2 separate regions of the Homo sapiens genome follow, and region 2 is linked to region 1. Evidence: fine-mapped expression QTL. A gene starts in region 1. The other region holds a variant in brackets. All regions are shown on one strand. Distances are between the middles of the regions.

Region 1 (11,815 bases):
GATGTGGTGGCACATGCCTGTAGTCCCAGCTACTCTGGCGGGGGGGCGGTTAGGGGGACCTCAGGTTGTAGGATTACTTGAGCCTGGGAGGTCAAGGCTGCAGTGAGCCGTGAACCTACCCATGAACTCCAGCCTGGGTGACAGAGCGAGATCCTGTCTCAACAAAATAAAAAACAGAAAGTAAAACAAAAATAAAGAAGTGCAGAGGACAGTGGCTGGTGCATAAGTGTTACATCAGAATTTGCTATTACCATTTTTAAAACATTGCTGCATTCCAATCACTGTGTATTAATCTTTTAACATATGATAAAATATAATTTACTCATAACTTATTTAAAGAACTAGGTTTGTTTAAATTACAATAGCATGATGAAAATATCTCTGATGAAACTAATTGTTAGGTGTTGATACTTGGGCTAGGTTAGCATCATAAAATGACATGAGGGGCATTCTTTGCTTTTCATTGCTCTGGAGCAGAATATATAGCATGATCATAATCTGTTTCTTAAAATTTTTCAAGAACTCAAACAAAATCATGACTGCTTTTGGAGATTGCTCTTTGAAGGTTTTTTTTAAATTTATTTCCCAGTAACTGGCCTATTAAAATCTTCTTAGTTATATGGTTATTTTTGGTGAGTTATTTCTTTCATCTAGATTTCTTAATTTGTAGCATTCATGTACACAGTATTCTTAATACACTGTATTCTTAATACCTTCTAAGTCTATCATTATGTCCTCTTTTTACTTCTAACATGCATTCTCTCACCAGTTTTCTGACTTAGACTTGTCCAAGATTTGCTTATTACACTGACGTACTTCTAGAACTAGTTGAAAACATTCTACTGTGTTTATGTTTTCTTTTATCTGGTATACTTGATTTCTTCTGCTTTCCCTGCTTTTTTCCTATCATTCAGCATCTGTCTGTCTGTCTGTCTCCCTATTTTTCTGATGAGACGGGGTCTCATTCTGTCACCCAGGCTGGAGTGCAGTGGCATGAACATGGCTCATGGCATCCTCAAACTCCTAGGCCCAAGTGATCCTTCCACCTCAGCCTCCCAAGTACCTGGGACTACAGGCACACACCACCATATCTGGCTAATTTAAAAAAATTAGCTATATTGCCCAGACTGGTCTCAAACTCTTGGGCTCAAGTGATCCTCCTGTCTTGGACTCCCAAAGTGCTAGGACTACAGGCATGAGCCACCATGCCCAGCTTCCTTCAGCTTTTATAAGAAATTATTTTCCTGCTAAATTTCTAAAATTGACTGTTTAGACTCTTTGTCCTCAAATTTCCATATGCTGTAATTTGATACAAAAAGGTGGTGTATTAACAGATCAATCCTAATTTCACAATAAGAGATAAAATCAGATATCTATGTATCCCGATGTATTACACAGGAAGTATATAATATCACCTATCAAGCATTCTTGCCACTTGACAGAAATTCAAGGTTGAAAGAAACATGTTAAAGACAACAAAAGGATACATTCAGCAAAATCCAGAAGGTAGAAAATTTCTTAAGACAAACAAATTATAAGAAAAACGAAATAAGGGTAAATCTGTAGATTAAAACAAACTGAAGGCTGATCATGGTGGCTCACACCTGTAATCCCAGCACTGTGGGAGACCAAGGTGGGCGGATCACCTGAGGTCAGGAGTTTGAGACCAGCCTAACCAACATGGTGAAACCTCATCTCTACTAAAAATACAAATAATAGCCAGGCGTGGTAGTGTGTGCCTGTAATCCCAGCTACTCAGGAGGCTGAGGCAGGAGAATTGTTTGAACCCAGGAGGTGGAGGTTGCAGTCCAGCCTAGGCAACAGAGCGAGACCCTGTCTTAAAAAAAACAAAAACAAAAACAAACTTAAGAGACATATCATTCAAATGTAAAGTGTGGCTCTTCCTTAGATTCTAACGCAAAATTAAATTAACCACAGGGCGCACTGGCTCACGCCTGTAACCCCAGCACTTTGCAGGGCCGAAGCAGGTAGATCACCTGAGGCCAGGAGTTCAAGACCAGCCTGGCCAACATAGTGAAACCCCATCTCTACAAATATACAAAAATTAGCTGGGCATGATGGCAGGTGCCTGTAATCCCAGCTACTTGGGAGACTGAGGCAGGAGATTGCTTGAACCTGGGAGGCAGAGGTTGCAGTGAGCCGAGATTGTGCCACTGCACTCCAGCCTGGGCGACGCGAGACTCCATCTCTAAATAAATAAATAAATAAAAGAAAATGGGGATTCTATAAAATTGGGATAGTAAATCTATTTTATAAGTGTGTTAAATGAGTTAATACTATAGCACTTCCATAATAATAACTGCTAACTGCTACTGAGTATTTTATACGTGTCTAGCACCATGAGAAATGCTTTATACATATCACACAATATATATTTCACATAGTGAAAAGGTTTTTCATATGTCCAAAGTACAAATGAAGCTGATTTACATAAGAAATGGTCCAATTATTTTCTGTAAATGAAACTTACTTTTGCTTTAAAACTGTTCTTAGAGCATCTTTCTGTCCCATTGTATACTGAGAAATGAAGATGTCATTTGCTGCAAAATCAAGACACAAAAATATATATTAAATTCCTGAATATTTATTAAACTTTAATAAGCTACTAAAAAAATCTTTTTTAACTAAAAGAATGTTTAGGAACTCAGCCATAGCATTCCACGATCGAAAAGGACAAGGAACAAATTAAGTGATTAAGTAATAATATAATCCTCATAATCCCAAACCCACAGCCAACATCATACTGAACGGGCAAAAGTTGAACACATTCCCCCTAAGAACTAGAACAAGACAAGGATGCCCACTCTTACCACTCTTTTCAATACAGTAGTGGAAGTCCCAGCCAGAGCAATCAGACAGAGAAAGAAAGAAAAGGCATCCAAAAAGTAAAAGGAAGTCCAATTACCTCTGTTCACTGATGACATGGTCCTATACCTAGAAAACCCTAAAGATTCCTACAAAATGCCCCTAGATCTGATAAATGACTTAAGTAAAGTTTCAGGATACAAAATCAACGTACAAAAATCAGTAGCGTTTCTATACACTAATAACATTCAAGCTGAGAATGAAATCAAGAACTCAATGCCATTTACAACAGCGGCACACAAAAAATAAAATTCCTAGGAATACATTTAATCAAGAAGGTGAAAGATCTCTACAAGGAGAACTATAAAACACTGATGAAAAAAATCACAGATGACACAAATAAGTGGAAAACATTCCATGCTCATGAATTAGAAAAATCAATATCGTTAAAATGACCATACTGCCCAAAGCCATCTACAGATTCAATGCAATTCCTATTCAATTACCAACATCATTTTTCACAGAATTAGAAAAAACTATTTTAAAATTCATATGGAGCCAGACACGGTGGCTCACGCCTGTAATCCCAACACTTTAGGAGGCTGAGGTAGGCAGATCACTTGAGGTCAGGAGTTTGAGACCAGTCTGGTCAAGATGGTGAAACCCTGTCTCTACAAAAAAAAAATAGAAAAATTAGCTGGGTGTGGTGGTGTGCACCTGTAATCCCAGCTACTCAGGAGGCTGAGGCAGGACAATTGCTTGAACCCGGGAGCTGGAGGTTGCAGTGAGCTGAGATTACGCCACTGCACCCCAGCCTGGACAACAGAGGGAGACTCCGTCTCAAAAAAAAAATTTATAAACATATCTAATACTAAACCTCTGCAATAGGTTGGTAATAACAAGATAACCTTCACCATTGCAAACCTTATTCTGGATTTTATAGCTTCTAGTGATAGCTTAATTTGGGAAGAAAAACTAATTTAAAATGAAAATAATAAAAACTATAAGACTACGTAATAAATGTTTAAAAATAAATTCTACCCTTAAGAAGAAAATTCTGACACATACTACAACATGGATGAACCTTTAAAACATTATGCTAAGTGAAATAAGCCAGTCACAAAAGGTCAAATACTATATGATTCTACTTATATAACGTACCTAGGGTAGTCAAATTCATAGAGACAAAAAGTAGGATGCCCAGGGCTGAGGGGATGAAAAATGAGCAGTTAGTGTTTAATGGGTAGAGTTGGGAGAGATGACAAAGCTCTGGATATGAAAGGTGATGATGATTGTACAACAATGTGAATGTACTTACTGTCACAGAACTGTACATTTTAAAGTAGTAAACTTTATGTTATGTATATGTTGTCACAATTTAAAAAAATCAATATTATTCTTTTACCTTTTTGCTTGTTGTTCTCTTCTATTTTATCCAAAGGCAACACTTGCACTGCAACGTCTTTAGAAAAATCCTTTGGGATATGAAAGGAAGAAATAGGCTAAATAAACTTCATGATTTATTATTTATCAAGAACCGTTTACTAGCTATGTGACTACTGTGTTCTGGGAGGGCAGGACTGTGTATTTCATATTCTTCATTTCCATCATCATGCAATTCTGATGTACCTTAAAGCTACTCAAAGATTTGTTGAATGGGTGAGTAATACACTATCAGACAAGTGAATGAATGAGTAAATGAACCAGCAAGCAAATGTAGCACTGAGATTCAGACTCAAACCAGTTTGCCACTTGTAGCAGAGCAAGTCATTTAACATCTCAGTTGCTTCAGTGAAATGTGAAAATCTGACTCACTGTGAGTCAAATGGAGTAGATAAGGATGGCACAACATCACGAAGATCACCCATTTATTCTCAATTATACAATAACAGTGTATCCATACATTTGAGAAGTTTAGATATCATTAAATAAGGCCTGCTTAAAAAAAAAAAAGACAAAACAACAAAAAAACACTCCAAAGTCTAGGCATTTACTTAGGGATCAAGTACAGCAAATAATTATACATTTTATTGTGAGCTTTTGACAAAATTGTCATATAGTCTCAATTGAATTATTAGTTTGCCAGCTTCAATTTTCAAAATAGCATATTGTGAAACTCTCATTATACAGACTTATTAAACTGACAATACATAGGTCAACACTATGATTAGCCGTCAAAGTCTGATTAGATCTCATAACCAAAACATTGTATTTATCAAATACTTTCGGCATTATAAAGTTAAGATGATAATTTCATGTTATTCTTAAAGAACCTCCCTTCTAAGAAAACCAAAACCATTCTCACAAGTGTTAGAATGACATGCAAGCACACCTCACATTAAAGAAAAATTGTACTGTTAGTTGTTCCTTTTCTTTTACCTAAGAACATGTTAAGTCTCTGGGCAAGAACACCTTTTCCCTGAATAGTAAGAGAGTTTCTTTTCAGTTATCCTATCTCTTTCAGCGGCCATTATCTTACTAATAGGTATTTTTGATTCTAGGGAAGGCCTTTTGTTTAATGTCTCAAACACCATTCAAAGTCACAATTGTAGTATATAAAACATTTGTTTTGGTAAGTGATATTTAAATAAAAACAAGGCATGCTGCTAATCAAACATAATTTAAGAATGCATTATTTGACAATACTGAAAATTTTAACGTGAGCATAATTAAGAATCCTTTTGCTTACACTTTCTGACACCATGGGATTTTCTAATAGAGGCTGGTAACAATTTCTAGCAGAAGTTAAGTCTGATGAACCTAACAAAACAAAGGAATAGATTTTAGTGATTTTAAAATCAGATCCTTAGCTTTAGAAACTGTATATGCATGATTCAAGATCTATAAACTCCATATAACGCAGAAGTTGGAAAGACAATTTGCATGCAAAAAAAGTTAAGAAAATGTATTTAAACATATCTGAATGAAAGTTTTTACAGTTGATATTTGGGAAAATAAGGTTCGGTACTGACAATAAAGTGAGATTAAGCACGAAACATTTTAAAATATAACCATACACTATTGGATGTGGACAAACTATGGGTAGAAATATGTATACGATGTAAAGGTCTAATTTAACAGCAGTACTATTTGAGTGTCACCGCTGTATCCCCCAAAGAACAGCATTACAAAAGCGTTTTGCTGTTTTTGCTCACATATTCATTAATTTAATCCTCACAATTAGCAGCGAAGTGGGTAAAGCATATGTTATCCTTATTTTCACTGAGCTCTAGACAGATTAAGTGAATTGGAATATAGAAGCCATCAATTGGCAGAAGTCCTGCTTTTCCCACTATGAAAAGAAAGTAGTGAATTAGGTAAAAAGCACTACTTTGGGGGAAAACTATAAAAAACACTACGTGGGGGAAAATAAAGCACATTATACAAGTTAAGTGTATCCACCATAAATATAAAAAAAAAAATATGCAAAAGTCAATGCAAAAAAAAAAAAAAAAAGCACAACAGGGGACGTTAAAGTTTCATTCATTCCATCTATTCAAACATTTTATAGGCTTCCTGGCCATTTTCCCGGGAAACAGGGTCAGTTTTCAAACATCTGTACAAACTAGACTTATATCTTACGTTTGGGAATTTAAACAAATAAGGACTAAAGATTTACTAAACTAAAACTGGTTGAAAAACTACATGGAATCACATACCACGTGATGTTCCATTCAAACTAGTCCCCGTTCCAACAGGAAGACGTTTATTTGCAGACAATGCCGGAGGAACACAGGGCAACTCATCTTTCAGCAAAACCAAATGATCTCCATGATTTTGAGAAACTACCTCACGAAGTCTCTTCACTGGCATCTTAATCTTTTTTTTCTTCTCCAAGCTGACCTCAGAGCCTTTCATATTGTTGGTCACAAAACAAGTCCCACACTTAAGGACGGAAAAACTTTCTCTGTTTCCTTAAGACTTCAGAACAAAATTTTCACCTCTTTGCAATAACTGTTTTTAAAATGTCGAACATCCACAAAGCTGAAAATCTAAATTCTGATATTGAATCCAGGATTAGAGCTGACTATAAAGTCATATTTACCCATTAATCCCACTCAGTCTATTAATACACCACGCCAAAATGTGAAAGTGGGGATGACAAGAGAATGGCCACAGGAGCAACAATAACCATAACAGTGCACTCCCCAACCCCAGAGCTGGTAGGGCAAAACCAAACACATGTAGTGGCGGGCTTAAAATTTGTTGAGAAGAGGCAGTCAAGCAAATAAAAGCGAAATGCTATTTTTAAAATAATGACCCACATAAGAAGCGTAATAGCTTTCTTCAGCCACAGAGTCTTACACACCCCTCCAGATGCAATCGTCGGAAACATAAATTCACCCCTACGTATCTCCAGAACGCCCGAGACCCGCACCGTCGTGGGTGTAATCTGACAACAGCGTCAGTTGCCCGCAGGTCAACACCCACTTCCCTTCAAACCCGCCCTTGAGACACAACACGCATGCGCGCCAAGAAACTCACCCAAAACATCCAACCAGAAAGCTAAGCGCTCTCTGGTGCTCTTCCATTCCTCTCCGGGTGGAAACAAACTCCGGACATAACAGGGGTTTATTTATTTATTTATTTTAAGGTAGCACATTGCCGCACAAGACCGCTCTACAGTCTCATCCAAGACTTGAAGAGCTCCCGACTTGTAATACTACTTGTGTTTACCAGGGACTGTTGACACTGCTTCGCTTCCGAAGACCGTTAGGGACGTGGGATTAGGTAAATTAGGCTTCCAAGAAGTTTCGACAGATTCGGGTCATTATTGGAGAGGAAGTCGGGAATAGAAAGCGTTGTCTAAGCAGAAAATAACCGAAGTTAATCCTTAGGAGATTTTAGAATTCGCTGATGGTACCTGCTTTTTCTTCTAGATTTCCTCGCGTTATAACGAATCGGCGTCTAAGGGTTTAAGTGTCACTTGACATTACTGCTCCCACGTGTTCTTTCCCATCTGGCGGCCGCGGCTCCTGTCCAGACCCTGACCCTCCCTCCCAAGGCTCAACCGTCCCCCAACAACCCCCAGCCTTGTACTGATGTCGGATGCGAGAGCCTGTGCTTAAGTATGGTGTCTGTTCTCTGCCGTGAGAATCCGGGGTTCCCGGACGGGGGGTGGCAGGCTACGCTCCAGGAAAGTGGCGGGGTCTCCCGAGGAGGCCGCCGCACGTACCTGGAGCAGTGGGGGGTGCGAAGCGGGACAGCGCTTCGCCGGGTCGGGTGCAGACCTTCCTGGAGATGGTGTCACCTGGGCGAGGGTAGGAACTTTAGGCCCTGAGCCACCCCCAACCCGGATCTGGGGAGTCGGGGTCCTGTTTTGGGACACTGAATTAGACTATAAGGTATTTACGATGTGACCTTGAGCTGCCCGGGGGAAGATCCTCCTTTAAATGAAAATCGTCTTTAGACATAATACCAGGTCTAACACCCCTTCCCTGATCTGCTCATTTCCCAGGATGCGCTACTTAGAGCTTTCCCTTTACGCCTTACTGGAGGCTTTAGAATAATCAAAGCAGAAAATGTAATCCGATCTAAAAGCTAAATAACTAATTTTATTTCTTTTACATCTCGGCAGTCTACCTTCATAGAAGTCTAGACTTAAAATGGACTTTAAAGTCTGAGCGCGGTGGCTCACGCCTGTAATCCCAGCACTTTGGGAGGCCAAGGCGGGCGGATCACGAGATCAGGAGTTCGAGACCAGCCTGGCCAGCAAGGTGAAACCCCGCCTCTACTGAAAATACAAAAAATTAACTGGGCATGGTGGCGCGCGCCTGTAGTCCCAGCTACTCAGGAGGCTGAGGCAAGAGAATTGCTTGAACCCGGCAGGTGGAGGTTGCAGTGAGCTGAGATCGCGCCATTGTGCTCCAGCCTGAGTGACAGATCAAGACTGTCTTAAAAAAAAAAGAAAAAAAAAGACTTTAAGGGCTCAGCGTTAAAGACCCTTTTAATTATTATTTTTTTGTAACTTGCTGAGTTTCTCTAATGAGTTTTGTGTTGTTTTTTGAGACAAAGTCTCACTCTGTGGCACAGGCTGGAGTGCAGTGGCGCGATCTTGGCTCACTGCAACCTCCGCCTCCCAGGTTCAAGCGATTCTTCTGCCTCAGGCCTCCTGAGTAGCTGGATTACAGGCGCCCGCCACCACGCCCAGCTAATTTTTTTTGTATTTTTATTAGAGACGGGGTTTCACCATGTTGGCCAGGTTGGTCTCGAACTCCTGACTTGATTCACCCGCCTCGGCCTACCAAAGTGCTAGTATTACAAGCGTGAGCCACCGCACGTGGCCATTATTTTTTATTTTAGTTACATTTTCTCTTCGTAATTGGGCTCATAGGTGGTACTTGTTTGTTCACAATTTATTGTATATTATGAGTGTACTGAAAGAACTACAATGTCAGAGTCGCCAGAGACCTTGGAGATAGTTTAACTCTTACCTTCTAGGTGAAACTTATGTGAAAGAAACAGTGACCTAAGATCTGAGTGTAGGCACTCTGAATTATTAAAATGACAACTTAATTTGGATCTTACAGCTCTTTGTCATTACTCTTTAGTTCCTTTCCCTCTTTTTTTTTTTTTTTCCAGAGACAGGGCCTTGCTCTGTCATGATCATAGCTCCCTGAAGCCTTCAACTCCTGAGCTCAGGCAATCCTCCTGTCTCAGCCTCCTGAGTAGCTAGGACTACAAGCACTTGCCACCACGCTGGCTAATTTTTTACTTTTTTGTAGAAACTAGGTCTCGCCTTATTGCCCAGGCTTATTTTCTCAGCTCACTGCAACCTCTGCCTCCTGGGTTCAAGTGATTCTTCTGCCTCAGCCTCCCAAATAGCTGGGATTATAGGCACCCGCCACTCTGCCCAGATAATTTTTGTGTTTTTAGTAAAGATGGGGTTTCACCATGTTGGCCAGGCTGGTCTGGAACTCCTGACCGCACGTGATCTGCCCACCTCAGCCTCCCAAAGTGCTGGGATTACAGGCGTGAACCATCATGCCTGGCCTTATTTTCTCACTCTAAATCAGCCCTCTCAACCCCTTTTCTTTATGACTGACACTTTTGAAAAGACCAGCCAGGTTGTCTTACAAATTGTTCCATGTTGTAGATTTTCCTAATTATTCCCTCATGATTAGAGCCATATCAAACTTTGGCCAGAATACCACATAGGTGATGCTGTCTTACTGCATCCCACCAAGAAATACCTAATGTTGGCACCCATGTTTGTGATGCTAGGTTTTATGACTTAGCTTATACGTTTTTTCTTTGAGACAGGGTCTCTTTCTGTCACCCAGGCAAGAGAGCAGTGGCGTGATCATGGCTCACTGCAGCCTCAAGCTCCTGGGCTCAAGTGATCCTCCTGCCTCAGCCTCCTGAGTAGCTGGGACTACAGGTGCACACCACCATGCCGGCTCATTTTTGTATTTTTTGTAGAGATGGGGTTTTGCCATGTTGCCCAGGCTGATGTAGAACTTTTGGGCTCAAGCTATCCACCCACCTCAGCCTCCCAAAATGCTGGGATTGAGCCACTGCACCTGGTCAGTCACTTAGCTTATAACATATATTTGGCTATTTGGAAAATATTTTTAGATAGATGATATGTGTCATAATAGCTTATAAGACATTTTATAGGTCTTAAATAGGTCATTTTATAGGTGCAATGGGGAAAATACTGGATTTTGAAGTCCAAAGACCTTAGTTAGGCTCCAGCTGTCCAGTTACTATCTGTATAAGTGACCTCATGTAAGTTTCTTAAGATTTCTGAACCATCCCTCCCAGAATTAGTAGGAAAATCATAAGGGAAGTGTAATGTATACTTATACCTGGATAAATAAGGATAGCATGACATTAAGTATTTTTTTTAATAGTAACACATATGCCAAAGAATTGTAACCTCAGAATAGAGGAAACTAATTTCACTTACTAAAAAGGAAGAAACTTTAAAAAAATAAATGATTAGCCAATAGAAGTTTACATTTCATTGAAAAGACTATTAGAACTTGAAGGGGACTTAGTAATCATATTACCTCATTTTTCAGGTAAGAATCAGGCCTTATTGGAGACATTCAAGCAAAGGTTGGACAACTACTTTTCCAGAACAGAAAGGAAACTCATGCATCAGAAAAGGTTAGAGCTTGATGACTGATAAGATCTCCCTTTATTCTTAAGTTCCCTGGTTCTAGGATATATTTTGTTTGCCACAAGAATAACAGCATCATTGTAATCATTCCCAAGATCTAAGCCAGTGATTCTTGAATTTGCTTATTTCTTCTCTCCCTCTCCAGGTTTCAGGGATATAATCAGAAGGTAACCCCTGATGGGTCTTTGCCACAGTAACATAAATTTGCTGTAATATATGGAAACTAGGATCAAATAAAAGAACAACCACATTACTGCTACCTGTTCTCACCATCAGGTGGTTTATGTGGCTGGTGGAATTTGTTAGTCTAAGCTTACTATTAAATAACTGCGAAGTGAATAGTGAAAAATTTAGAAGACCTCAAATTAGCAAGTAACTCTGAAAATCATTGATTTACTCAGTCATCTCCAGTATTTTCTCTGAACCAGTTGCCTACAATTATGTATACCATAATCTTTTTTTTTTTTTTTTTTTTTTTTTGAGACAAAGTCTCGCTCTGTCACCCAGGCTGGAATGCAGTGGCACAATCTCAGCTCACTGCAGCCTCTGCCTCCCAGGTTCAAGCAGTTCTGCCTCAGCCTCCCGAGTAGCTGCGATTATAGGCATGTGCCACCATGCCCGGCTAATTTTTGTATTTTTAGTAGAGACGGGGTTTCACCATGTTGGCCAGGCTGGTCTCAAACTCCTGACCTCAAATGATCCACCCGCCTTGGCCTCCCAATGTGCTGGGATTACAGGTGTGAGCCACTGTGCCTGGCCTATACCGTAATCTTGATAGATACTGGTGACTACCGAGGATAGCTTTAGAGATTTAAGCAGACTTAAGAAAACTTCTGATTGTTAGCTCTTGAGTTCAACTGT
Region 2 (11,815 bases), 47 kb before region 1:
ATCCCAGCACTTTGGGAGGCCAAGGCTGGTGGATCATGAGGTCAGGAGATTGAGACCATCCTGGCTAACATGGTGAAACCCCGTCTCTACTAAAAATATAAAAATTAGCCAGGTGTGGTGGCAGGCGCCTGTAGTCCCAGCTACTCGGGAGGCTGAGGCAGGAGGATGGCGTGAACCCAGGAGGTGGAGCTTGCAGTGAGCTGAGATCGCACCACTGCACTCCAGCCTGGGCAACAGAGTGAGACTCTGTCAAAAACAAAACAAAACAAAACAAAGTTTAGAGATGCCAATATACGTGTATGGGGGTGGGTGGGGGAGGGTGGAAAGAGGAATAAAAATGAAAATACAAATGTATCTACTTATTATGAAAAAGACTAAGAGGACAACTTACATAACAAATATTCTCTGTAAATAAAAAAAAGGGAGATGAAAATTTACTCAGATGGCCTCTTCTCTACTACTACAGAATTTAGTGATAAAAATGGGCACATTAAATGCCCTCATCTGAATACAACTCACATTTCCAAGAGTATAACAACAGGAAACTCTGTGATAGATCTTGACTACAACAAAAGAATGCACTAAATATAAAGGCAAACCTCCCTTCCTTCTAGTTTCAGATACATCAGTTATTAACATCTACTGCAGTTGAGGTGCTTGTTATCAGATGTCCTATAGGTATATTAATATCTGAATGGGTTGTACTTCTCACTTACATGAATGTACATCAAATTAAGTAAAATCTCCTGGAGAGACTTTACTTGACTTAAAGTAGTGATATTTATAAAGCTCCATGCGGAAAATAAGTGGATACTCATTTGTACAACCTGATGGAGATGTGACCTCACCAAAGAGTACTGCTTAAGTAACACAACTATAGTAACAATATCCAGAATTCCCTAAAAAGTGGGTAGACGTCTAGTGGGATCACTTGTTGACGGGGTAAGTAACAGCAATTTGCTCTTGAGTTACCATAGCAGAGACTATCCCAATCCCAAATTCATATTCAACAATATATGTTGATACATCTCCTTTTTAGTTTCCATAATTCATTCTTTGAGCATGGCCCAAAATCAGAACATCGTTTTTATAAGGTCCCAAATCCCTACCCAGACACTGGCAAAACAAAAGCAAACACAAATCTTTGACAGGGAAGAAAACAGGATCTAAATACCCAATTTGTAAAATGTCAGATTTTCACCAGGAAAAAAATTTTCTCATAAATTTGTTGTTTATTTTTGTCCTCCCTTCAAAGATGAGATGACGAGAGAAAACTGGGATAGTAACAACAGAAGGAGGCATGTGAGCTATGCTAAATAGGACAAATTAGCCAAATGCAACAATAAACTCTATGAAGCTGGGATATAGGGTATGGCTGAGTGGGGAATGAAGAAGAGCAAAGCAAAGAAAATAGAACAAATAATAACTCCAAGGCTTTAGAGATTGGGTGCTGGGAGAACTGTGATCTCAAAAATGAGAAGAATTTTAGACATACTAAAGATGAGATGCCAGGGGAGCATCAAGCACAATATTCATCAACCAGCAGAACTGCAAGTTGTCGGCCCAAATACATGGCTTAGGGTTCATCAACTGACACAGGATAACTAATGTCAGGAGGAAACTGGAAGAAAACAGAAAAGAGGGCAAAGCATGGGAACTAGGGAAATAATTTTATTCAAGTAGCAGAAAATAAAATGAGAAAATGAAGGTCTTAAAGAAGTTTTTTTTTTTTTTTTTTAAAAGAGGAAGAATTAACAGAATGAAGTCTAAGCAGCCAACACCAGGAGAAGAGTTTAAGCATCAGAGATGGTCAATAGTGCCTATGCTTGAGCCATACAGTAAAACAAGGATTTGAAAAAGGGAAACATTTTTGACAAGCAAATGCTGTGAGAAAGGAGTTTCTTGAGGGGGAGGGCAAAAGAAGGCCAACCTATAAGGACCAAAGAGGAAGTAGGTAATGAGAAATTAAAGTGGTGAATATAGACTCTGAAGTCTAGGATTCGGGCTGTTAAAGGATAGTCTATGAGGGAGAAAGAATAGCTTATCCTGAGGCTGGAAAGAAGAAAAAAAGTAGAGATAATGATAAACAGGAATAAAAAAGAAAAAAAGAACAAAGTTAGAAAAACTTTCACTATCCAATTTCAAGTGTTACTATTAAATTACAGTAATCAAGAAGTATGGTATTAGTATAACTTACAGGTGAATGAGACAGGATACAAAGTCCAAAAACAAGATGCACACATATATAACCAATTGATTTTCAACCAAGGTGTTAAGGTAGTTCAATGGAATAATGATAATCTTTTCAACAAATGGTATTAGAACAGCTGGATATCCATATGCCAAAAAACCCCAAACAAAAAAGAACTTGATCCTTACTTCACACCATAAAACTTAACTCAAAATATACTATAGGCCTAAATGTGTAATCTAAAACCATACATCTTCTAGAAGAAAACATAGGAAACTATCTTAATGATCTTGGGTTAGCAAAGATTTTTTTAAAAGCAGCATGCAAAAATCCCTACAAACTACTAGAAAAAACCTGATAAATTAGACTTCTTCAAAATCAATCTTTTTGTCTTCAAAAAATAATGCTGAGAAAACAAAAAGGCAAAACACAAAGTAGAAGAAAATATTTACAAAACATATATCCAATAAAGGACTTGTATCCAGAATAGATAAAAAACTTCATACTCAGTAATATGAAGACACGACTCGAACTTAAAAATGGTCAAATGATTTAAAGAGATTTCACCAAAGTAAATATACAGATGGCAAATAAACACATTAAAAAGTTGTACATCATTAATAATTATACTACTCAGGTATTAGTATAGTTAGGGAAATACCTCCACATATGTTCAGAAATGGCTAGAATTATAAACACTGACAACACCAAGTGTTGGGGAGGATGTGGAGCAACTAAAGTCACATACACTGCTGGGTGGAATGCAAAATAGTACACCCACTTTTGGAAATGTTTAGCAGTTTCTTATAAAGTTAAACATTTACTTATCATATGACCAACCAAAATTAAAAGGTTTCTACACAAAGATTTGCTTACAAATGTTCATAGCAGCTTTATTCATAATAGCCAAAAACTGAAAGACTATGAATGTCCATCAACTGGTAAATGGATTGACAAATTATGGTATATCTATACATTATACTATTACTACATGCAATAGCATGATTGTCAAAATATTATGCTAATAAAAGAAGCCAGCTAACAACGGGCTACATATTGCATGATTACATATGTATGAAATTCTAGAAAAGGTAAAAATACAGTAATAGAAAGCAGATCAGTGTTGTTAGGGGCCAGTGGGCACGAGTGAGGTTTAGGAATTGACTGCAAAATGGCATAAGGAAGCTTTTGGAGAAGACAGAAATGTTTTTCTATCTCATGATTATGTGGCTAATATATAGCTGTGTGAACTTGTGAAACTGGGCCAGGTGCGGTGACTCACTCCTGTAATCCCAGTGCTTTGGGAGGCTGAGGGAGGAGGATCACTTGAGGCCAGGAGTTTGAGATTAGCCTGGGCAATATAGCAAGACCCCATCTCTACCAAATTGATTGACTGATTGATTGACTGATTGAAACAGAGTCTCGCTCTATTGCCCAGGCTGGAGTGCAGTGACGTGACCTTGGCTCACTGCAACCTCCGCCTCCTGGGTTCAAGCAATTCTCCTGTCTCAGCCTCCGGAGTAGCTGCAATTACAAGTGTGTGTCACCATACCCAGCTAATTTTTATATTTTTCATAGAGACGGGGTTTCACTATGTTGGCCAGGACGATCTCAAACTCCTCACCTCAGGTGATCTGCCCTCCTTGGCCTCCCAAAGTGCTGCGATTACAGGCGTGAGCCACTGTGTGCCTGGACCCAAAATGATTTTTAGCTGGGCATGGTGGTGCACACCTATGGTCCTAACTACTTGGGAGGCTAAGGCAGGAGAGTTGCTTGAGCCCGGGAGTTAGAGGTTACAGTGAGTTATGATCATGTCGCTGCAGTCCAGCCTCTAGCCTAGATGACAGAGGGAGACCCTGGCTCTAATTAAAACAAACAAACAAAAAACTTGTCAAACTGTACACTTAGAAGTGGTGACTTTTATGGCAAGTAAACTTACCTCAAAAAAACAAGGAGGAGGTGGAAAGGAAGAAAAACAGGAGGAAGAGGAAGAGAAGGAAAAAATGGGGAAGAGAATGGGGAGAAGAGCGAAAGGGGAAAAGAGAAAAAGAAGAGGAAGAAAAGAAAAAATCGGGAAGAGAAGCAGGAGAAGAAAAGGAAAAGGGGGAAGGAGAAAAAGAAGAGGAAGAAAAGAAAAAAATGGAGAAGAGAAGGGCATAGGCACCATAAAGAAAGGAAGAAAAGAAAAAAATGGAGAAAAGAATGGCATAGGCTCCATAAAGAAAGAGGCTCATTTTAACCATTCAATGAATACTTAAACTCTTGTTGGGTATCAGGCAAGGACTAGGCACAAAAGGAGAAACATCCTTAAATCCTGAGTAATTTATAGTATAAAGAGTGAGGTACATATGGAAACCAACCTTAATATAATCTGATAATTACTATAACAAAAATATGTACAAAGTACTATGGGGATAACAAAGAGATTTGGGGTGGGAGGTATGAAGAGTGGTTTAATAATCTGAAAGCTGCAATATGAAATAAGAGGGTGAGAGAGAACTAACCATCACCAAAGAAGTACTAAGAAGTAAGGTTAGAAGAGCTTACCTTTTGTTACTGGAGAATTTACTTGACCTCTGGAATATATAAATCCACGATGAACTAAAGCTTTTGTCTTTTAATAAAAACAAAAAAAAATTCTATTTCACTTACCAATGTCAGAAGTCAGTGGTTCACTTGTCTCACTGACTGAAACACTGATACTAGGTGCAATCTGTTGCTGGACTGGAAAGAGCCCAGAGATAATTCTTGACATTATTTCTTGCTCTACCCTGAGAGGATGGTGGGGCAGATAAAAGTTAAGATTCCT[C/A]AATTTGATTGAAATGTAAAAAATGTTAGACATACCACCCCTAAAAATAACCTTTACCAATGCCACAAACATGTTGGTGTGAAAGCAGTCATTCTGAAAGTTAAATCTAGAAGAAAAAAAATAAAATGGGCTGGGCATCATGGTGCATCTGTAATCTCAACACTTTGGGAGGCCACGTTGGGCAGATTGCTTGAGCTCAGGAGTTCAAGACCATTCTGGCAAACAGGGCAAAACACTGTCTCTACAAAAAATACAAAAATTAGGTGGTACGTGCCTGTAGTCCCAGCTACTCAAGAGGCTGAGGTGGGAGGATGGCTTGAGCCCACGAGGTTGAGGCTGCAGTGAGCTGTGATCACACCACTGCACTACAGCCTAGGCAATAGAGTGAGACCCTGTCTCAAAAAAAAAAAAAAAAAGTACCTCTGAAGAAGATAAAACACACTAAACAGAATCTCCTTGTGGGAGATAGTTTATGAAATCAAATTAAAATCTTTCAGATTAGTCTAATGAAAAGCTTAAAAGAACTCCTAAACTCAAAATAAGACTTGGGCCAATGACTATCTGGCATATCATGTACCTAAACTGTTTGATTTCCACTCTGAGTGCACACATAAAAACCATATCAGATCAGAGCTAGAAAAGATGTCCAGCTGCCCTTTCTTCACGGTAATACACATATAGGCTGTATTATAGGTAGTTTTCCTCTTAAAATGTAAAGAAAAAATTTATTTCCAAAGTCATCTTCAGGAAGGGAAAGGGGAACAGGAGACTTCTAGAACATTTCTTTAGTGCAGTTAATAGACTTCTTAAAAATTATTATATAAATAATAGGTGTTCATTGTAGAAAATTTAGAAAAAAATGTAAGAGTTTAAAAAATTGATAAAGCTCACCTATAATCCTAGGTTCAGCAATAAACACAGTTAATTTGGTATGTATGCTTTTTCAAACTTTTGTTTTATGCACAGTTTTTTGTTTTGTTTTGTTTTGAGACAGAATCTCACTCTTTCGCCCAGTCTGGAGTGCAGTGGCACAGTCTCAGCTCACTGCAACATCCACCTCCCAGGTTCAAGCGATTCTCCTGTCTCAGTCTCCCGAGTGGCAGGGACCACAGGTGTGCACCATCGCACCTAATTTTTGTATTTTTTCAGTAGTGACGGGGTTTCATCATGTTGGTCAGGCTGGTCTCGAACTCCTGACCTCAGGTGATCCACTCACCTTGGCCTCTCAAAGTGCTGGGATTACAGGCATGAGCCACTGTGCTAGCTGCCTACTTACTTTTGAGTAAGATCTTGTAAACTGGGGTTACATTGTTAGTATCCTGCTTTGTTTATATGCCAGTACATTATTAATATCTTTTTATATCATTAAATTTCTTCTAAACCTAATTTTCATGACTATATTAATATTCAGCCATTTCACTTATTCCATAACTTCCTTAAGGTTTCTTACAAGTAAAAATACAAATAATAGCGTTCATTTCATATTCATATGTAACAAGTTACAATTGTTATTGTAATATGTAACAATAATAACATATTACAGCTTGTTGTTATCAGTATGTAACAAACCTAGAACAGTGCCCTCTTTGTAGTGCTAGGTATTATATGGCCTAGTATAGCAGTCCCAACCTTTTTGGCATCAGGGATTGGTTTTGTGGTAGACAATTTTTCCACAGACCAGGGCAGGGGTGGTGGGGTAGGGGGTGGGGGGATAGATTCGGGAGGAAACTGTTTCACCTCAGATCATCAAGCATTAGATTCTCATAGGGAGCGTGCAACCTAGATCCCTCACATGCACAGTTTACAATAGGGTTTGTGCTTCTATGAAATCTAATGCCACAGCTGATCTGACAGGAGGTGGAGCTCAGGCAGTAATGCTCACTCACCCGCTGCTCACCTCCTGCTGTGCAGCTTAGTTCCCTGGTTCCTAACAGGCCACAGACTGGTACTGGTTCGTGGCCCTGGCCTAGCAGCAAACCATAATTACTTCTTTAGGATAAGTTTCTGGAAATGAATCACTGGATTAAAGAACATGTACATTTTTAAGGCTTCCTAATAGTCTACTTGTGCCAGAGTAGACAGATTGAGTACAAATATTCAAGGACAAAAACAATAACCTCCAACAATAGTTAAGCCCTCAGCATTATATCAAACACTTTCCAGTGACTAAAGCAAAGAAAGTTTAATAAACAAAAGAAGACAAGGAATATTTTCAGCCACATTTTAATACTTTCCATTTATATTTTCTACTATGGTTCTATTCATACCAAAAACATTATAAACTTACCATTGAATTAAGCTATTTTCCAGTGTTTCTTTTCTCTCAATTACTTTATCCAGAATATCAGCAGTGGGCTGAAAAGTAGAAGCAACTGGCGGAAATGGAGGACCATTATATTTTGTAGAATCAGCTTTAACACTTCTGTTAAACTCCAGAATTGGTTCAGAGTCTGGAATTTCATCACATTTTTCTTCTTCCTGGTAGTAACAAAAACAAAACTATTATATTCATGTATTTGTTCAACATTTACTGAGTACCAACTATAGGCAAGGAACTAGGTGAATTAAGAAACCCTTCTAAATTAACCAACAGCATTTCTAATTAGGTGGTATCACATTAATTATAATATACACATTAGTCAGACATATCATATTGAGGAACCCTTAATTACACAATCAGTTTGTCTTTTTAGAACCCAATATTCATTTTATGCAATCACAAAATAAACTAGAAAACATAATTATTCCTACATAAAACACTATTATTTCTCTCTAGAAATGTATGCTTAATAATTATCGTTAAAAAATTGATGCTTCCTGATATGGTTTGGATATTTGTCCCCTCCAAATCTCATGTTGAAGTGTGATCCCCAGTGTTGGAGATGGGGCCTGGTGGGCGGTGCTTGGGTCTTGGGGGCAGATCCCTCATGAATGGCTTGGTGCCCTCCCCATGGTAATAAGTTAGTTCATATGAGAGCTGATTGTTTAAAGGAGACTGGCACATCCTCCTCTCTCTCTTGCTCCCTCCCTTGCTTTGTGACACATCTGGACCCTCACAGCCTTCTATCTGAGTAAAACTTCCTGAGGTCCTGACCAGAAGTAGTTGCTGGCACCATGCTTCTTGTACAGCCTGCAGAGCCACGAGCCAATTAAATCTCTTTACTTTTTTTTTTTCTTTAAGACAGAGTTTCACTCTTGTCACCCAGGCTGGAGTCCAATGGTGCGATCTCAGCTCACTGCAACCTCCACCTCCTGGGTTCAAGCAATTCTCCTGTCTCAGCCTCCCGAGATGCTGGCATTACAGGCGCCCACCACTATGCCTAGCTAATTTTTGTATTTTTGGTAGAGATGGGGTTTCACCATCTTGGCCAGGCTGGTCCTGAACTCCTGACCTCAGGTAATCCACCTGCCTCAGCCTCCCAAAGTGCTGGGATTACAGGCATGAGCCACTGTACCTGGCCTTAAGTCTCTTTTCTTTATAAATTACCCAGTAATTCCTTTATAACAATGCAAAATACACTAATACACTTCCAAAATCACTTTTTGCTCTTATACAACTTATAATTTACATTTAAATATGCAATAAGGTCAGTCATCTTACAAATTATTTGCATTACCACATCATAACCAATAGAGTTATTTCTGGAATTGTTAAAGTTTTTATTACAAAAAAATCATATGTGTTTAAAAGTAAACAAATAGTGTCCTTGTACTGTATCTGTTACATAAATAACATGAATTGCATTTATCCGCTCCCCAGCTTTAACAATTATCAACTTATGGTCAATCTTGTCTCATCTAGCCACTTTCCCCTTCACATATCATTTTGAAGCAAATCACAGATATCACATCATTTTATCTATAAATAATTCAATCAAAAACACTTTGGGTCTCTCTAAATAGTACAACTCAGTAATATTATTCCATTGAAAAATGAAGTCCACAGCTTATAAATGGCAGAGCTAATACAGGAACACTTGTCTTTGAATGCTAAATTCTCTGCTACTTCTATAACCATTTCTTTCGCTTGTATATTGCATAAACAATTACCAAGTACCTTTGCTAGGCATTAGGAATATAAAAATAAATAAGGTCCCTGTCTTCAAAATTCTCATGTGGCACTCACATGAGAAAAGACATATCTGTGAGCGAATAACATTAATATACTGCACACCTCTGTATATTCTAAAATTGGATTTCATTTTATGATTAACAAAACTGATCTTAGCTCTAAAAGTCAAAGAAACTTGATCAAATGTGTTCTTTAAAGTCTAATGACATAATGGTCAAGTAGTTTCAATGTTCTATGATCTTTTGTCCCATCCTTTATAATTTACTTCCACCTATTTTTCCCTCTATTTCATTATTTCTATCATTTCTATAACTCTTCCTTCCATATGGGATATTCCTTTGGATTATAGATTTCTCACAACTTTTTTCTCAATATCAATTAACTAGTCACCTCACCATGAATCCAAAAACCAAAATTAACAGAAAGAAAAAAAGACAAATTGGAGGAAAAGAAGCCAAAGGAAGTGGAAAGAAAGAAGAAAGCAGGAAACAGATAGACAAAATCTAGGTGGGGAACGGCAGATAATCATGAAGCTTCATGAAGGCAGATAGGTGATATAGATTAAAGACATTCTAGAATAACAACTTTATAATTTTTAAAAGTATATTTAACTCAAAAGTAAAAGAAAGTATCTCAAAGCACTGTAACATAATATTGATAGTCCAAAGATAGTCAACAACCTGGAAAAATACCGGTAGAAAAATAATTTCTCATGGTTTCTAAGCTTTGTTACCTGTATGACATCGATTATTTCATCAAAGTTAGTTCCTGGAAACTTCACCTCTTCTTCATCTACCTTCATAATTTCTGGAGTCTAAGAAAGCATTTTCAGAAAGTTTTTGTTGTGCTTAACACTTTTAAAATTTATAAGTAATTTATCATATTTCCACCTATAGTATAAGCTTATAATTACATGGTCCTTTTTAATCATTTTAATACCCTATTCAGAATTGATTTAATTAGTAAATGAAATCCAAGCTAGTCCCCAAGCCATTAGGTCAACATTTCAATAGCTTTAAAAAATTAATCAGCTGTTTTTCTGTAAAGGACTCCATCAGCAATATCACTTAATTGATCAACAGGTTGATATAATTGAGACTTCTCTTCCAGAATTAAGATAAAGGAAAGTGTTTACATGTGTAGATCTCTAAGTATAAACATATATGAACTCACATGAAGATGGATACAGAATCAAATAATTCAGGAAAAAAAACAAAATAGTCATTTTACAAATCTAATCATTAGGCCTCATTATATAAAATGTAGTCATGCAATAGCCTCTTACTGACAGCAGAATGATAAACAGTCCAAAAATTTATTGCTTGTTATCACAGAAGTTTCAATAAACAGAAGGTTAAAAAAAAATACTGATGAAAAAATTCAATTAAGCACAAATGTCACTTACGGACAGTTCTATTTCATTACTTATGATCATGAAAGATTGCTGGTATTCTCTCTCCTTTTAAAACTGTACCCTTGGCCAAGTTTGCTTACAATAAACAAAACCTGGGGTAAGTTACAGTGCTATTTTGCTGTGTAGTAAAGCCATAACTTCATTATTCAAAAGCAAATAAATGCCAGGAAGAAATGCATATTTTTGTATCATGTCAACAGTGGGATAACAAGGTAACATTCCAAAATATAAACTCCCAACTGTCACTATAAAATTCATTTAGGATATCTATAATTCCCATGTAAATCAAAGATTCATCACCAAAGTGACAGAAATTCTTTCTTCACATGAGAGTTTCACAACTTAAATTACCAAAAAGTTACACTAAAGATTATCACTTTCCAAATAGTTATAAATGTAAGGATCTGAAACAAACTTTCAAGTTCATAAACAATTCAAAATTTGTTTTGGGCTGGCGTGGTGGCTCACGCCTGTAATTCCCGAACTTGGGAGGCCGAGGTAGAGGGATCACTTGGAGTCAGGAGTTCAAGATCAGCCTGGCCAGCATGGTGAAACCCCATCTCTACTAAAAATACAAAAATTAGCCGGGCGTGGTGGCAGGCACCTGTAATCCCAGCTACTCAGGAGGCTGAGGCAGGAGAATTGGTTGAACCCGGGAGGCGGAGGTTGCAGTGAGCTGAGATCACACCACTGCACTCCAGCCTGGGCGACAGAGCAAGACTCTGACTGAAAAAAAAAAAATTGTTTTCAATCTTTTCTTCAAAATCTAAATTATTATAAGTTATCATTATGATAAAAGGCTTTAAATGGAGTAATTAGTTAAAATCTACAGTCAGACATTACTCAAAATAATATGATAAAATTCTGAAATATACCTTTATCCAAGTTTGCACAGGAGGAAGAGATGCTTCTTTGGGGCTAGACAGAGGTGAAAGGACATCAGCACTACTATTTGAAATGCTGTCAATATCTACACTGGGTAATACCTAAAACAGAATACAACATTCAGCTTTCTGTTTATCATTTTTACTCAAATATTTTTATGAGTATGTGTATATACATGTATATGTGTGTGTGTATACACATATACATAAAAACAAAGCATGCCCTTTAAGTTTTTATTGTGAACCCAATGGATAACAAAATTTTTTAATTATGAAAGCATATTTTATAAAATATGAAAAATAAAGAGGAAAACACACAAAATTCTATCTTAAGATGACTTCATTTTCACTATTCCCTTTGTCTTTTACTATCTACTTATACATAACTAAAATTTAAAATAGTTTTCATTCTTGATTTTTCATTTTGATTACAAGAACCATAAAC

Which allele goes with the higher level. Alleles are on the strand shown, and positions count from the first base shown. SD is a standard deviation of normalised expression in the study named.
In carriers of allele C in region 2, the expression in cerebellar hemisphere of the gene that starts at base 7,230 in region 1 tends to be lower than with A alone (large effect, 1.0 SD a copy in GTEx).

What was found. PIP is the estimated chance that this variant, and not a neighbour inherited with it, causes the effect.
Region 2: its variant is fine-mapped to the expression of KIAA0586 in cerebellar hemisphere (GTEx, PIP 0.93).

The regions. Positions count from the first base shown.
Region 1 is chr14:58,423,134-58,434,948 of GRCh38, reverse strand. It overlaps KIAA0586, which reads right to left and starts at 7,230. Exons shown (of 31, transcript NM_001329943.3): 1 at 6,486-7,230; 2 at 5,516-5,586; 3 at 4,232-4,301; 4 at 2,492-2,561. The coding sequence starts at 6,684. It overlaps TIMM9 (translocase of inner mitochondrial membrane 9), which reads left to right and starts at 7,418. Exons shown (of 6, transcript NM_012460.4): 1 at 7,418-7,557; 2 at 7,707-7,895; 3 at 10,854-10,941. RefSeq lists enhancers at 6,959-7,148, 7,219-7,268, 8,283-9,226.
Region 2 is chr14:58,470,270-58,482,084 of GRCh38, reverse strand. KIAA0586 reads right to left here. Exons shown (of 31, transcript NM_001329943.3): 17 at 11,362-11,472; 18 at 9,806-9,886; 19 at 7,288-7,478; 20 at 4,844-4,962. Among named protein-coding and RNA genes, the nearest start is that of KIAA0586, 48 kb to the right of the region's middle. The variant C/A (reference allele first, on the strand shown) is at 5,001.